Linked DNA regions of Homo sapiens: region 2 is linked to region 1. Evidence: fine-mapped expression QTL. A gene starts in region 1. The other region holds a variant in brackets. All regions are shown on one strand. Distances are from middle to middle.

Region 1 (8,635 bases):
GGAGTAGAATTGCTGGGTCATCTGGCAACTCTATGTTTTAAATTTTGAGGAAATGCCATACTGGTTTTCAAAGCAGCGGCACCATTTTACATTTCCACCAGCAATGTATGAAGGATCCAATTTCTCCATATCCTTACCAATGCTGGTTATTGCCTATCTTTTTTATTATAACCATCTTAGTGGGTATGAAGTGGTATCTCATTGTGGCTTTGCATTTCCTTCATTGCTAATGATGTTGAGCATCTTGGCCATGTGTATATCTATCTTCTTTGAAGAAATGTCTATCCAGATCCCTTGGCCTTTTTTTTTTTTTTTTTTTTTTTTTTTTTTTTTGAGACTGGGTCTCGCTCTGTCGCCCAGGCTGGAGTGCAGTGGTGTGATCTTGGTTCACCGCAACCTCTGCCTCCCAGGTTCAAACAATCCTCCCACCTCAGCCTCCCCAGTAGCTGGGACTACAGGCCCATGCCATCATGCCCAGTTAACTTTTTGTATTTTTAGTAGAGTCAGGGTTTTGCCATGTTGCCCAGGCTCCTTGCCCATTTTTTATTATTTGTCTCTTTATTATAGAGTTGTAAGAGTTCCTTATATATTCTAGATATAAGTCCCTTACCAGGAATATGATTTGCAAATATTTCCTCCCGTTCTGTGGGATATTGTATTATTTTGCCAAGGCTGCCATAACATAATACTATAGACTGGGTGGCTTAAACAACAGAAATTGGCTGGGTGCGGTGGCTCACACCTGTAATCCCAGCACTTTGGGAGGCCGAGGTGGGTGGATCACTTGAGGTCAGGAGTTTGAGACCAGCCTGGCCAACATGGTGAAACCCTTACTCTACTAAAAATACAAAAATTAGCCGAGCGTGGGGGCATGCACCTGTAATCCCAGCTTCTCAGGAGGCTGAGGCAGGAGAATCGCTTGAACCTGGGAGGTGGAGGTTGCAGTAAGCCAAGATCGTGCCACTGCACTCCACCCTGGGCAGCAGAGTGAAACTCTATGTCAAAAAAACAAAACAAAACAAACCCCCAGAAATTTATTCCTCACAATTCTGAAGGCTACAATTCTGAGATCAAGGTGTTGGCAGGTCTGGTCCCCCAGCCCTGAGTCCTCTCTCCTTGGTTTGTAATTAACCTTCTTCTCCCTGTGCCTTCCTCTGGTCTTTCCTCTGTGTGGCGCATCTCTAGTGTCTCTTCTTATGAGGACACCAGTCATTGGATGAGGGCCCCATCCAAGGGCCTCAGTTTAAGATGATCACCTCTTTAAAGACCTTATCTCCATCCACAGTTACATTCTGAGGTTCTGAGACTGTAACCAGTACAGTTCAGCATATGAATGGGGGTGAGGGGGCACACAATTCAGCTTATAACAGTTATTTTTTCACTCTCTTTTTGTTCTTTTTATGTTTAATTTTTTTTTTTTTTTTTTTTTAGAGACAGGGTCTTGCTCTGTCACCCAGGCGGGAGTACAGTAGCACCATCATAGCTCACTGCAGCCTTGAACTCCTAGGCAAAAGCAATCCTCTTAAATAGCTAGGACTACAATCATGAACCACTACGTCTGCCTAATTTTAAAAGAATTTGTAGAGACAGAGTTTCACTATGTTGCCCTGGCTGGTCTTGAGCTCCTGGCCTCAAGTAATCCTCCTATCTCCACCTCCCAAAATGCTGGGATTATAGGTGTGAGCCACCAGGCCCAGCCATAACTTTTCACTTTCTTGATGATACCCCTGAAAGCACAAAAGTTTTTAATTTATCTATTTTTTTTTCTTTTGTTGCTTGTGCTAATATCTAAGCAACTACTGTTTAATCCAAAGTCATGAAGATTTAGGCTTATGTTTTCTTCAGAGAGTTTTATAGTTTTAGCTCTTACATTTAGATCTATATGTTGCATATAGTATGAAGCAGGGATCCAAATTCATTCTTTTGCATGTGGATATCCAGTTGTCCCAGCACCATTTTTTGAAAACACTATTCTTTCCCCATTAAATTGTCTTGGCACTCTTGTTGAAAATCAATTGGCAGTAAGTGTAAGGGCTTCTGTCTGGACTCTCAGTTTTATTCCATTGGTCTGTATGCCCATCCTTATACCCGTACCACCCTGCCTTGATGACTGAAGTTTCCTAGTAAGTTTTGAAATCAGGACTTGTGAGTCCCCCAACTTATTCTGAATTTACTTTAACTTTTGATACCGAACACAGTGTGAGAGGTGAATGAACAGCATGACATTGGAGTTGGGAGCCCCCTCCCTCCAAAGGCCTTATTTTAGGAACACAGGCCCCAAGTGCCACACAAGCCTTGGAGAGATGGGTTCCCATCCTCTCAGCCCATGGCTCTTCATTATCAATCAATGGAAACATTCTTCGGAGAACAATGATTCCCTTGGGTTATTTTAAACATGGCTTTAAGTCTTCCCCACATGCTCTACTGTCTAATTGCTTTTCCTGAAACAGTGTCATTCACAACTGGATTATTAATGAACTGAGAGGGAGCCAGGGAGCCAATGAAGGGGGCTTACAGAGTTCCTGGAGAGGGCCTGGGGGCCTGGAACAAGTTCAACCCACAGATTTTCTCTCCCCCAAGAAAGGTGACTGAGCAAACAGAAAATCACTAAACTCAGGTGATGCTGGTGGCCTCAAAAGAATATTGCCAGTGAAAAAAAAAGGATTCGGGCGAGTTCCTCAAACATGACAGCTGAGAATCAAATTAACTGGGTACCATCCCCAAACTCCCCAAACTTAAACTCTGAATTTCCCCAGCTGGCTGGCCCTGGGGTGCCTAGGGCTCTCATCTGTAGGCCGGGAAAGCTCAGGAAACAAGGCCTTTGTGGAGAAGAGAAACCTATTGTTCTAAGGCCAGGGTTCAGCAAATGTGGATTCCAGAGAATGTTTGGGGAGGTTTTCTCTGCTTTGTTTATGAACTTTCTTTTCTCTTCCTGGGGTGGTGATGGTGGGGGGTGACTCTCAGCAACTTAAATAGTTAAACCCATTGTGTTGTAAAGAAAGGCTGGTGCACAGAGTGCAGAGGCCTTCAGCCCCAGAAAGAGGCTTGAATGAGGTGACAGAAGCCACCGGGTATGTTTTGCTTTTTATTTTTAGCGTTAAATCTCAGGGAAGCAGCCCCTATCTTCATCCTGCACATCTCAAAGGGCGTCAGACGTCAGCAGAGGTACGACCACTTCCTTCCTCCAGCGCTTCACCTCCCTTCTTTCCAGAAAGAGGAAATGATGCGAGTCCACACCGCAGGCCACAGCCCCCATGTCTCGGCCCCAGCAGCTGGGGGACCTGGCCCCACAGATCTGTCCCCAGCGCAAGGCCAGGGCCGGCCCCTGGACCTCCTGGGAAGCCTTCAGACTCAGGCCGCGCAGGCCTTCAAGCTAGGAACCCTGAGTTCCTGGCCCTGGCATTCATTCTGTGTGACCTTGAGCAGGTTACCACTCCTCTCTGGGCTTCAGGATTCCCGTCTGTCAAATGGGAGCAGGGATACCGTCCTTGGCTTCCCTCTTTCCATGGTCGGGGTGGGGGTTAGGAAAACTATTTTGGAGGAGGGGGCAGCGTTAGGAAAACTATTCCGAAGCCTGGCCACGTCCCAACCGGTTTCAACTTCCTGCAGCTCAGAAGAGGGGTCCCCACCCGAGAGCGCCGGGACCCTGTCCCGCGCTGCCTCCCAAGCCGGATGGGGTTGAGCGCGCCCACCCCAGTCCCAGGAGCTCAGGCCCCGCCTTGGGGGAGGAGCCGAGAGGCGGCGCGGAGGCTCGCGGCCGAGCAGAGCCAGCTCTGTCGCCGCTGGAGCAGCTGCGGCTCGGGGACCCACAGACACAGCCGGGGTCGGGAGCCGCCCGGGGCAGGGCTCGGGAGAGCGGGTGAGTTCCCCGGCGGCGCCACCACCCTCCTTGCGCTCTGCGGCTTCGCAGGGCGGGGGATGAGGATGGGGCGGGGAGGTGGTCCCAGCCTGCTATCACCTAGCTGGGGGCCGGGGCGCTTTGGCCAAGGGACGATAGCTTGAGATAAATGGGAGTGTGGGGACTCTGGAAAGACGGGTACCGAGAGCGCTAGGTCCGGGAGTCGGGCTGGAATGGGGGCGTTCTCCCCGGCCTCGCAATTCCTTGACGAGGCCAGGGGAGGGGGCGCATTGGCAGGTTGTTGGCTGCGGCCGTCGTAGACCGATCTTGGGGCGGGGAGGTGGGGTCCTCGGTCTGTTCTGGACTCATGGGGCCGCCGTCTGCCGGGGGTGCAATGCCGGGCGGCGGGAGCCACAGCGGACACCAAACAACCCCCCCCCGCGCACTCTCCCGGCCGGGCATGGTGGTGCCGCCCCCTCGCGTGGCGGGGCTTGGTCCTGGCGGGCAGCGGCAGGGCGCAGAGAGCGCTCCTGCCCGGGCGGGAAAGATCCCCAAGGCAGGCGCCTCCACCTGCAGACCCGCCCCGCCTCAGGATCCGGCTGACAGCACCAGCCAGCCCGGGGAGACCCCGCGAGTGGTAGTTCCCCGGGAGGGGCGCGCCCGGCCTCTCCCAGGGCCCCGTGCGCCGGCGGCTGGGTCCCCCGCGCCAGGAGCGCTCCCCTCTGGGCGACTCCGGCTCATCGATTCCGGCCCAGAGGAGCGCCCCCGGGCGCCGAGGATGGGCGGAGACGTGCAGCCGCCCCTGAGAGGTCGCCCAGAGGGGTCTCCCCAAGGTCACCCGGAGTGCCCAGGCTGAGCTGCCCAGACCGCCCCGGGTGGAGAGCCGGGAGGCAGGCGCTCGCTGCCCTCCTCCTTCCCCCATGTAGACTCCCTTCCTCCGCTCCCCCACCCCGGCCCGGCCTCCAGCTTCACTGGAGATGCTGATGATGCAGCTCCCAGCCCTTGGAGGATAATTGAGCCTGGGAGAGCTTTGAATCTGGCCCTCCTGAGACCCCAGGGCTGCGCCGCTGCCGCGCGCCAGGCCTGGGTCCCGGTGCTCCCGGGCACCTCAGGAGCGGAGGGAGAGGGATGTGGCTTCATCAGCGCTTCTAGGAACCGAAAACCGAGCTGCCTGCGCGCCCATGTGATTGCATTTCACATAAAGGGCCCCTGTTTTCACTGTCAGAAGAGCCCCCCAGCTCTCCGCGGCTCTGGACACCAGGTGCCGCCTCTGAATCACCCTCTGTGGAGGACCCGGGGCCCGGAGGTACAGGCGCCCTTTCCCGCAGGGCTCTCCCTGGAAAGGGCCTGCCGATGGCGGCCTCAGTCCGCAGGGGTACTTCCCTGTGTACCCTGCCATTTCCTGCGGCTGGTGAAGCACCGGAGAAAAACCGTCCATCTAGGAGGCCTCCTCCAAGGCTGGTAATAAAGCTTCTTAGCCCAGCCAGCGACTAGCTGTCTACTCGTGGGCAAGGTACTTGGCTTCTGGAGTCTCAACTGCCTCTAAGATACGGGGCTAACAGCCGCCAGGCTGTGGGGAGATGAGGGAGAGGCTGGGTGCAGCAGAGCGGGAGGATGAACACTCCTTGGCCAATACTGGCCGCCCTCGGGATTGGCTTTGAGTGGGGCGTGTCTCTCTTAGACAGGTGCAGAAGTGGAGCCCTGGTGGGTGGTTCTGCAGGGGCTGGGGGAGTTTCCACATCTTCCTCCCCCAGCTCTGTCATAAAAAGCCAGCTTGCAGGAGGCCGGTGGGGGCCAGCAAATCCTTCCAGCCGGCTGCCTGCTCACACGGCCCTTCCCACACAAATCTCCCATGCCCTTCTCTCCCACCTGTCACCCAAATCCCATCTTCCTGGCTGAGTCCCCAGGATGCTGGGGGCAAGATGTCAACCAGGCCACCCTGGACTGTCAACTCTGTGCCTACTTGTCTACTGGGGTCTACCTAACAGTGTTCCCCTGTCCTGGAACCTTCCTGGCTCCAGCTCTTCCCAGCCTCTGTAATGTCTTCTTTCCCCTCTTTTGGTCTCCTACCACCGTGACACTCATTAGTGGCTCTGTGGTTCATGTGTCAAGGGCCCCGTGCCATCTGTGCTCTCCAGATCATCCATGGCCTAGAAAGACACGGTAGGCAAGGCCCTGTGCCCACTCAGACTTTGCTCTCCCTGGTAATTGACGGAGTGGAGGTTAAATTCTAATCTAGCTGTTAAGTCATTTCAGGAGCTTGAGCCACAGGGCTAAGAGGATACTGATGTAGGCAGGTGGTTTTTCCTTAAAGCCAGAACCTTTCTCCTTTCTGCAGAGCCCATTTGAGCCCTTTGGAAACTAGGCCTATGTGTGATGGCCTCACAGAATCCTCACAACCCCGTGAAGTAGGCATTACTGATTCCCATTTTGCAGATGGGAAAACTGGGGCTCAGCTCCTCTCAAAACCAGCTCCATGCCCCAAGTGTAGCAACAGAGGCTGCAGCCAACCTGGTTTAGGAGAAGGCAGAAGGCACATACCTGAATTCAGGTGCTGTGCTTGGACTCTTGGGACCCCATCCCCCCAACCTTTCCCTCCCCTCTCCCAACCTAGCCACCACCCCTCCTGCACCCAGGACTCTTGTCACATTTGTTGACCAGGAGGTCCCAACTGGCACTCTTCCAGCAGAGACCAGGAAAACCTTCACTGTCCTGAGTGCATCTTAGCAATTGGGCTTCAAGAAGGGCTCGGACAAGCCTGCCTCTTACAGAAAGCTACGAGTATGAAGAGTGAGGGAGCCAGAGAGGTCTAATTTTAATTAGGGATCTATACCTAAAAGCTCTGTGACCCTGTATACATGACTTAATCTCTCTGAGTCTGGTTTTCTCATTTGTAAAATAGGTATCACAGTAATGCCTACTTTGTGGGATTGTAAGGATTCCATGAGACCATTAACACATAGAAAGTGCTCAGTACTAGGGTGGAGCATAGTGGCTCACACCTGTAATCCCAGCAGTTTGGGAGGCCAAGGCGGGAGGATCACTAGACGTCAGGAGTTCGAGACCAGCTGGCCAACATGGTGAAACCCCATCTCTACTAAAAATACAAAAATTAGTGCAGCATGGTGGCGCATGCCTGTAGTCCTAGCTACTTGGGAGGCTGAGGCACGAGAATTGCTTGAACCCGGGAGCAGGAGGTTGCAATGAGCCGAGATCACATGACTGCACTCCAGCCTGGGTGACAGAGCGAGACTCCATCTCAAAAAGAAAAAGAAAAAAAAAAGTGCTCAGTACAGCATCTGGTGTGGGTAGGAATGCAGGAAATGATCATTGTCACCATCACTACTATTTCCTCCTTTGTGTTGGACTCTCAAAGGTCCCACCTCCTCCAGTGCTAGGGTGGGGAGTGAGTGCGACCCTGTCTCTTCTGCCTGTAGCCATCAGGACGGGGAAAGCCTCTCAGCCTGTCTCCTGGGGCGGGGGTGGGGGCTCACTCCTGGGAACTTGAGTCTAGCACCAGCTTTTCCCCGGGGAGTCTGTGAGCAGCCACTTAGCCTTTCTCAGCTGACTGCCATTTTCCAGGATTCATTGATTCATTCAAAAGACGTTTATTCCATCCCAGCCCTTGTGCTTAGCAAGGGATTTCAAGATGAATGAGGCAGCTCTCAGAGTTCTCCCTCTATGGGGAGAGGCAGGCCTGGAGACAGATAATGAGGACACTGTGGGATAAAGGCTGCAACAGCAAGAAGAGAGAGTGACGAGCAGATCCACATGGCTCAGGCTGACCCAGGTCTGAATCTTGAAGCTGCCACCTTGTAGCTGGGTGAGGATGGACAGAGGCCTTACCTCTCAAGCAGATAAGCCACCTCCCTAAGATGATGATGTGAGGAGAGAAGTGAGACACTGTGGATAAAAAACCTAGCTTGGACCAGGTGCGGTGGCTCATGCCTGTAATCCCAGCAATTTGGGAGGCAGAGGTGGGCAGACTGATTGACTCCAGGAGTTCGAGACTAGCCTGGGCAATATGGCAAAACCCCGTCTCTACAAAAAATACAAAAAATTAGCCAGGCATGGTGGTGTGCACCTGTAGTCCCAGCTACTTGGAAGGCTGAGGTGGGAGAATCACCTGAACGGGGGAAGTGGAGGCTCCTGTGAGCCATGATTGCGTGCACCTCTGCACTCTAGCCTGGGCAACAGAGTAAGACCTTGTTTCGAAAAAAAAAAAAAAAAAAAAACAAAACCAAAAAACTTAAAAACCCAGCTTGGGCTTTCTAGATATTAATAAGTGCTCACAGATGTTCGTTGCTATTATTAGTCTATTATTGCCAATAACAGGTGGGCAAAAGTTGCTGTGGGAGCATGTTGAGCCCTTCAGTGACAGTTTTCCAGGTGGTAGGGCAGCCCTAGCCGGGAGAACAGCATGTGCAGAGGCACCGAGGCTTAAAAGTGCTGGATGTTTTTGGAGAGCAGTGGGAGGAGTTGCTGATGGAGCAGAGTCATGAGAAAGTTTGATGGAGGCAGAAGCAAGGCCAGGGAGGTAGCAGAGGCTATCCTGCCGGGAGCCCCGAAGGATTAAACACTCACTGACCCGAGGCAGTCCCTCTGCACCTTCCTTGGAGGGTGGTTCTCTAGTGAGGGTTGTCCAGGAAACTTCAGGATTAACTTTTGCATGGGAGGAAGGGCTGGTCTCTGCTCAACTATCCATACATTCACCATCCTTCCCTCTTCATTCCACCCAGGAAGCACGAAGAAGAAGAGGTCCACTCCCTCTTCCTGAGATGCTTTTCCCACCTCTGC
Region 2 (8,635 bases), 76 kb before region 1:
CGCCTTCGCTGTGCCCCGCGACTTCCCGGGGCGTCTTTCAAGGCTCCGTTTGATAGGCCCCAAGGGAGGCCAGGGCAGGAGGCTGGAGGCTCGTAGGCCTCCGGGACCCTGGATTTCGTTAGCTCTTAGTCCCCGTGTGGATTCTAAACCCTACAGCCCTGTCCGCCTGACCCTGAAGCTTCTGGTTCTAGACTCTTGCTCGGTTCGGCTTTCTGGCCTCCCTGGCGCCTTCCCGCCAAGCTCCTCCTCCTGCTTGCCTCCCCAGCCTCCACTTAGTCCCCTTCCTTAGGTCTCGCCCTCGCCTCACTCTAACTCCAGCCTTGTCCTAAGACTCTCAATTTCCAGCCCTGCTTCCTCCTCCCCGCGCGCTGCTCCCCAAGCGTCTTCACATTGTCTCTGTTCTTGCCTCCCAGGGGCTTTGCCCCACCTTCAGCCCCTCTCCCTCTCTACCCTATTTCCTTTTCGCCTCACAACTGCAGCCTTTAACGTTTCCTCCTCTGGTCTGAGCCTGAGACGCCCGAGTTTTCCTCTTTAGCTCCCGTGCCCCATTCCAGCCCCACCACAAATCCCGTGCCCACTCTTTCCACTGGCCCAGGCCCAGCTCACTACCTTTCTTAGAGCCCCTTTCCGACTACGCTCCCTTCTGTCCCTTCTCATCTCCTCCCCCAACTCCTCATTCTGTTCCTGTCCCCAGAAACCATCCCGAAGTATCTCCCTTCCCTCCTGTGGCTTCTCCCTATTCTCAGCCCTCTCCCACCCTAGCCCTCTCGCTATCACCAGCCATTAGCGCACCTTTCCTTCTCAGATCCGTCCATACATCCCTCCCTCTCCATCTCTGGCTCGACACCCGGGCTCACTATTAGTTCCCCTACATCCACCCCGCAGCCTGCTCTTAACCTCTCCTCCCCGGCGGCTCAGACCCAATTCTCAGTGTCCTTAGCGCCCCCTTCGGGCCACAGCGTTAAGCCACGCCCCCCGGGCCCCTCATCCGTTGCCAAGTTCGCTGAGCGTCCGCGTCTGGTTGCCTCTCCGCCCCACAGGGCATGTTCGTGCTGGGCCTACCCTACGCCATCCTGCACGGCGGCTACCTGGGGTTGTTTCTCATCATCTTCGCCGCCGTTGTGTGCTGCTACACCGGCAAGATCCTCATCGCGTGCCTGTACGAGGAGAATGAAGACGGCGAGGTGGTGCGCGTGCGGGACTCGTACGTGGCCATAGCCAACGCCTGCTGCGCCCCGCGCTTCCCAACGCTGGGCGGCCGAGTGGTGAACGTAGCGCAGATCATCGAGCTGGTGATGACGTGCATCCTGTACGTGGTGGTGAGTGGCAACCTCATGTACAACAGCTTCCCGGGGCTGCCCGTGTCGCAGAAGTCCTGGTCCATTATCGCCACGGCCGTGCTGCTGCCTTGCGCCTTCCTTAAGAACCTCAAGGCCGTGTCCAAGTTCAGTCTGCTGTGCACTCTGGCCCACTTCGTCATCAATATCCTGGTCATAGCCTACTGTCTATCGCGGGCGCGCGACTGGGCCTGGGAGAAGGTCAAGTTCTACATCGACGTCAAGAAGTTCCCCATCTCCATTGGCATCATCGTGTTCAGCTACACGTCTCAGATCTTCCTGCCTTCGCTGGAGGGCAATATGCAGCAGCCCAGCGAGTTCCACTGCATGATGAACTGGACGCACATCGCAGCCTGCGTGCTCAAGGGCCTCTTCGCGCTCGTCGCCTACCTCACCTGGGCCGACGAGACCAAGGAGGTCATCACGGATAACCTGCCCGGCTCCATCCGCGCCGTGGTCAACATCTTTCTGGTGGCCAAGGCGCTGTTGTCCTATCCTCTGCCATTCTTTGCCGCTGTCGAGGTGCTGGAGAAGTCGCTCTTCCAGGAAGGCAGCCGCGCCTTTTTCCCGGCCTGCTACAGCGGCGACGGGCGCCTGAAGTCCTGGGGGCTGACGCTGCGCTGCGCGCTCGTCGTCTTCACGCTGCTCATGGCCATTTATGTGCCGCACTTCGCGCTGCTCATGGGCCTCACCGGCAGCCTCACGGGCGCCGGCCTCTGTTTCTTGCTGCCCAGCCTCTTTCACCTGCGCCTGCTCTGGCGCAAGCTGCTGTGGCACCAAGTCTTCTTCGACGTCGCCATCTTCGTCATCGGCGGCATCTGCAGCGTGTCCGGCTTCGTGCACTCCCTCGAGGGCCTCATCGAAGCCTACCGAACCAACGCGGAGGACTAGGGCGCAAGGGCGAGCCCCCGCCGCGCTTCTGCGCTCTCTCCCTTCTCCCCTCACCCCGCCCCCACCAGCCCAGTGCGCCCTGCCGCCGCGCTTGGGAGGCCAAGCTTTAAACATCTCTGGTTCCTAGTTTCTGATTATTCGGGGATGGGGGGGATGGGAGGGGACAGGGATTCACGATCCATCGCGTCTGCGTTTCTGTTGTCCTTTCTTTTCCACAACACCCTGGTTTTGGGGGGAGGCGGGGTGCATTTGCGGGCAGGGTTCTCTGTCCTTCCAAGTGGGGCCCCGACACTTTGGTTCCAGTCATCGAGGGGGTTGGGAAGGGAGGGAGAGGGGGCGCAGCTCGCAGGCGTGGCAACTTGACCTTGGGGGAATATTTCACATCCATCCAGAGCTCGGAATCTACAGCGTCCAGCCATTTCCAGCAAGAGCGCTTCCCATTCCGGAGACGTTTCAACCCTGCAGCGGGAAAGGCTGACTGGGAAATCCATTTTGGGTGGGCAATTTCCTTCAACGAAGCCGGAAGGCGAGAAGCCGCGGCGGGGCCAGCTTGCCTGCCGGTTTTCAGGAATCTAAACTCTCATCTTGTGCAATTTATCAGGTGTGGAACTGTTCTACTGTGCGTGTGGTGTGCTCGTGGTGAATAAGATGAAATGTATATCAGAAAAAAATCTATCTCTAATTTAGAGTGCGGTACATAATTATATCCGCAAATAAAGAAGAGACAAAGGCTTGCGCGGCCCGGTGTCGGGTTTGTGTGTTCGTACCAGCCGGGATCCCCTGGCGCTGGGAGGCGTGGGAACTGGCTCCCGCCGGCTGAAACCGGAGATGGTGAGCAGCTGTGGTTAAAGGGTCCGGGGAGGGCTCTAGGGAGTACAAAGATTAGTTGGCGGCGAGGAGGCTCCTCAGGTGTGAGGAGGAAGCTGAAGACGGAGAGTGCTGTAGCGGCCCCCTCAGCTGCCAGGTCGAGGTTTGTTCGAATCTCTCCCCTGGGGGCGGGTCCATCTGAGAATTTGGTGGAAGCTCTCAACTTCCAACCTCAAAACAGAGAGGGACAGGGGGAGCTTTTATGTACCAGAACTTTATAAATTTGTTCAACAAATATTTATAAACAGCCAATCAGGGCTGGGGCAGTGTTGGAAACCTGGGGAAAGAAACTCAGCCTTGCCTTCCGGGAGCTTACAGTCTAGTGAGGTGGAGACAGGCAATAAACAAGGACAGGCAGGAATCCACAACGTGACTTCAGATTGTGAAGAGGGCTACAAAGGAAGTCAGAAGTGGGCTGTGCCTTTCACCAGGTCCCCAGAGCCACGAGCCAATCTGGCCCGGCAGGAGGCATCTGCCACCCAGGAGAACCCTGCCGTGCAATCCAAGGTGGGGTTTGCACAGCCATAGCAAAGAGATCTGACTCTAGAATCAACAGCCTCAAGTTGTAGGGTCCCAGTCTCCCCCTATCTTGCGCAGCCTGTCTGATAAAGTGTTTGCCTGAATTACCCGAAAGATCTAGTCTTTTTTGTGCTGATCCCACTCCAGGCGCAGCACCTGCACTGACTCCAGGAGGGCCAGTCCAGGGACTGTTGGGAAAGGTCAGAGTCAGACTTTCTGGGTGGGAGCTGGGAGTGCAAGTCCGCTGGGTGGGTTCCAGGGTCCGCTGTCACCACGGAGGCAGAGGCTTCGTTAGGAACGACTTCTCCAGGTGCGAATGGTGCACGGGAAAGAAGCCAGGGAGAATGCCTAAGTAGGGTGTGTGTTGCTCCCCGCCCGCTTGCAAGGGGCATGTGAGAGGCTAGGTGAAGATATGCGTGTGGGGTGGGGCAGGCTGCATCGTGTGTTGTGAGAACCTTGGTAAGTGTGTGTGCGTGTGTGCGTGTGTGCCGAGCATCCGGGTGGGCGTGCTCCCTAAAGCGCCTGCGACAGAGGTGACCTCGCATCACCCTGGTTCTGCGGCCACAGACCTGGAGTGGGAAGGGAGGAGGGATAGGACCCGGTGTCCTCAGCCATCACTGTGGCTCTAATGCTTTAAAACGGGCCATCTGAGAAGTCCGCTACCTTCGGCCTAATTCCCCGGGGTCACTATTGTCGCGTGTTCAGGATCCGGCACTGGCTGAAGGGTCCTCAGTTTCTCGTCTTCCCATGACCACTGACGTCTCCCAGGCCTGGGGCCGAGGGGTGGGGTGGGGAGCTGATTGTTCTTCCCCCGCCCCAACTCCCAAGGTTTCTCAGCGGGTCCACGGACCCTGGGGTGCTCTCCGAGTCAGTGTGTCGCCTTCAGAAAAATCCCGGACTTCTATGGTGGAAGGGAAGGTGGGAGCGTCACGCTGCACCATCTCTGTCCTTCCCGTCTTTAAAAGGTCGAAGGAGACACTAGGCAGGCTCCGGATAGCGGCGCCAACTCTGCGGGCTCGCCTGGATCCGCTCCACTAATCCTGGCTCCAGGTTTTGTGCTCAGCTTGCAGCGTCTCTTGTCCTAGGGGGCGAATCCTGAGGGTGGCAGGGGCGGGAGAACTAGCACCCTAGACGCCCAAGGGAAACCCGAAACCCTGGTCGGTAGGACACCGATACCCGGACTCGCATCCAGGCTACTGAGAGAAATAAGGAGGAGGAGTGGATGGCACCCGTCTCTGCACCTCTCATCTCCCCCACCCATCTACCCCCACCTCCACCATCACTAAAGCGTAAAGGTAGATGTTGAAAGGAAGAAGTCCCAGCTTTCCTCGCAGTGGGCTCGCTGTGCAAGTCCAAGAGAGCAGATAGTTCTGGCAAGGCTCATTCTGGGATCGGATTGAGAAGGAGAGGAGGAATCCGCGTCAGCCCCACAGGGCTCACATCAGTTCTTATGGGGCACCCTAGCTGGACGTGCTGCAGACCCTGTAAGC[T/C]GTCCCCACCTGGGTCCGCAGCATAAGTGTGTAGGTGTACCTGGCCCCTTGCCTTGGGGCCAGGACCTGGAACCACCAAGACCCACGTGCGCCGGCGGAACCCAGGATCGCGATCGCACGGTCCCAAGACCGCCCTGCCTCGCCCCCTAGCGGTGAGAGCGCAAACTGCCGGCCCGCAAGGACGGTTCTCCACCCTAGTCCTAAATGCTTCTTGTCTCCCCCTACCCCACCTCCTGCTTAGTTGATAAGCATTGCTTCTTTCTAGTGCTTTATTTCAGGTCCTCAACATTACAAAAGTTTTTAGTCATTTTTCCCCAAACATGGATGGATGCTTATTATTGAACATGTTTTGTTATATGACACCGTCTTATCCCAGGGACTGAGTGTTCCTCACTTAAAGACCTGGTAGGGAGGGAGCCAAACAGGCTCCATGGGGGCCATCCAGGAAGTGGAGAGGATCCAGGCCTTGCTATTCTAGAGGGGACTTCAGGGACAAGAGCCAGAGAGAGGCTTTGGTCAAGGAGGGGGCAGGTCCCTAGGTGGGCTCCATCCTCACCATGAGTGAGGGTGTGGTAGGGTACTCAGTCCTGGACAGCCAAGGATTCATTCGTTGCACTTGTTTGACCTCAGAGAGCCAGCCTTGGGTGTCCTTCTCATAGCTCTTTCGTTTTTTCCTTTTCAAGATTATGAAGAATTTCTAATGTATAGAAAAGGTGAAAGAATTCCACACTGAACATACATACACCCACACCCACCGCCGCCTAGACTGGATGATTAACAGTTTAAAACACTGTATCTACCCCATACCTATCCATCTATCCATCCAACAGTCTACCTGTAAAAAAAAAACAACATTCAAAAGTTGCAGACATCAGTATATTTCCCTCCCAAATAATTATTATCATTTTTGAGACAGGGTCTCGGTCTGTCACCCAGGCTGGAGTGCAGTGGTGAGAACACAGCTCACTGCAACCTTGACCTCCTGGGCTCAAGTGATCCTCCCACCTCAGCCCCCCGAGCAACTGACACCACAGGCAAGGCATGTGCTACCATTTTCAGCTAATTTTTAAATTTTTTGTAGAGACAGAGTCTCATCATGTTCCCCAGGCTGGTCTCAAACTCTGGGCTCAAGCAATCCCCCTGCCTTAGCCTCCCAAAGTGCTGGGATTATAGGCATGAACCCCTGTGCCCAGCCACCCCTCCCAAATTTTTAAGCTTTCAGGACAAGTAACAGTGACATTCAGATAGCACAGCATCAGTACAGCACTAATCTGAGCCACACTGGAGACCAAGGCAAAAAAAGCAATATCCATCCTTTCTTTACCTCAGATATTGTTATTTTGCTTACATTATTTTGAACGTTATGGTTCACTTTTGCATTAATTTTGATTTTTAAAAAATATTGCATTAAAATTTTATTTATATTGCTTTCTGGATTTTTTGCACCCTCTTAAATTTTGCTACCAAAGGAAATGCCTCACTTGCCTCATGCTAATCCTGGTCCTGGATGTGAGGCCAGGCCTGGGAGATGAGCTCTGCCCCCCCGGGAGATTTGGATTGAGATTTTTCAAGAGTCTGACTATAGCTGGTTCCACAGTGATGCTTTGGGCACCATCTCTGCCAGTTGTGGAGTCCAGGAAGGCACAGTGAGAGCAGAGCCTCTGACCAGGGACACCCAGCAGCATGGTCCAGCAGAGTCACATAGCGGGTGGGGTGGAGGGAGCTTTACGATTCCAGAAGCTTCCAGCAACCCTCTTGGGGGTGGGATGGAAACAGGGTGAAAAGGCTGAGGATGCTATAGAGGGGTTGGTGGTGTCTAGAAGGGAAGGCGGTGCAGCTAGAAGGGAGAGCACAATTAAAGGAATTGTTAGTGTGATTCAGTTCCTGTTTCAAGGTCTGGTAGTTAAACAAGATTTATTTATCAAATATTTGTTAAGCACCCACTCTAGGCCACACACTAGGCTAAGGTCTAATGTGTGGGAATGCAACAGGAAACAAGACAGACATGGCCTCTCTGGTAGTTGTCAGTGCCCACCCTATGTTCCCTAGATGCACCTAAGTTTACCTGAAGCTGTGGAACATGAACCACTGCCAGTGCCTCCATCTCTCCTCATCTCCCTGAGGGCTTTCTAGGCTACCTTGGGAGCATGACTTGGAATTGTCGGGCAGCTAACAGCCCCTAGTGCTCAATCAATTGGCAATAAATGCCTGTCTCCTGTCCTGTGATGGGACCATTTTAGGTCTATTCCACAAGGTATCTTGGAGGGTCCCCAGCAGGATTGAACCTCAGGTGTCCACAAGCTCATCAAAGCAATCTTTATTTGGCCTTTCCCCCTTCCTTTTCTTCCTTTCCCTACTTTCAAGGTTCACCTCCCACATAAATTGACTGCATCTGAATCTTTGTCTTAGGGTCTACTTTTAGGGAAAGGTAAATGAAGATCCTATATTCACAGTGCTTCTAATGTAATATAGTGGTCCCCAAATATCTTTCCATAGGCAGGTGCCAGGCTGGGTGAATCAGAATAAAATGGGGAGCTTTCTAGAAATTCCTGCTCCCCACAAAACCCCTAGATTCAGATTCAGAAAGACCTTTCTCCTCCTTCTCTTCCTCCTCCTCAACCCCCTCCTCCTCTTCTTCCTCCTTCTTTCAAGTTCCCAACGTGCCACTGGCTTGGGACCACTAATATTGAGAAGGTTTGGTCAATGGGAGGGTGGTGGATGGATGGATGAATAGATGGATGGATTAGTAAATGCTTTGAGGTCAAGGGTTGGATGGTTGAGCCAATGAATAGATGAATCAGTGAGTGAAGGAAAAAAATGGATTATAGATGAATGGTGGACCAATAAATGGTCCATGGATGAAAGGAAGAAAAGAAGGAAACATAAACAGGTCCATAGCAACAAACTTTAGTAAACTCCACAAGGGCAGAGATATTCTCTGTTTGGCACCCTACTGGATCTCCACTATCTAACACAGACCTGATATACAGAATGTTCTTAATAAATTATGTTCAAATAAATAATGTATTTTCAGAAAACTATCGACACATTAATAGTACTAAAGTCACAGAAACTATGAGGTCAACCAGGAGAGTGCATGAACATTTAAAAAGCACCGGGCCAGTGACCTTGGATAACAGCAATATTTAAAGGTCAGGCAGGCCAGATGTGGAGGCTCACGCCTGTAATCCCAGCATTTTGGGAGGCCAAGGAGAGCGGATCACCTGAAGTCATGAGTTTGAGACCAGCCTGGCCAACATGGTGTAACCCCGTCTCTACTAAAACTACAAAAATTAGCCGAGCATGGTGGCGTGTACCTGTAGTCCCAGCTACTCGGGAGGCTGAGGCAGGAAAATCGCTTGAACCCAGGAGGCGGAAGTTGCAGTGAGCCGAGATCGCACCACTGCATTCCAGCCTGGGGGACAAGAGTGAGACTATTTCTCAAAAAAAAAAAAAAAAAAAAAGTCAAGCAAATGAAGAGAAGGAGGAAAAGAATGAGGAGTCAAGATTGATAAAACATAGTCTGACAGG

Evidence for each region.
Region 2: its variant is fine-mapped to the expression of PPP1R16B in whole blood (INTERVAL, PIP 0.91).

What each region holds. Positions count from the first base shown.
Region 1 is chr20:38,801,934-38,810,568 of GRCh38, forward strand. PPP1R16B (protein phosphatase 1 regulatory subunit 16B) reads left to right here and starts at 3,764. Exons shown (of 11, transcript NM_015568.4): 1 at 3,764-3,859. RefSeq lists enhancers at 2,077-2,939, 2,940-3,801, 3,084-3,353, 4,382-5,220, 6,800-6,849 and 1 more and silencers at 3,614-3,993, 4,184-4,403, 4,464-4,813.
Region 2 is chr20:38,726,412-38,735,046 of GRCh38, forward strand. SLC32A1 (solute carrier family 32 member 1) reads left to right here. Exons shown (of 2, transcript NM_080552.3): 2 at 1,041-2,961. The coding sequence ends at 2,228. Among named protein-coding and RNA genes, the nearest start is that of SLC32A1, 6.2 kb to the left of the region's middle. RefSeq lists enhancers at 1-467, 682-1,342, 2,003-2,662, 5,093-5,618 and a silencer at 775-1,069. The variant T/C (reference allele first, on the strand shown) is at 5,105.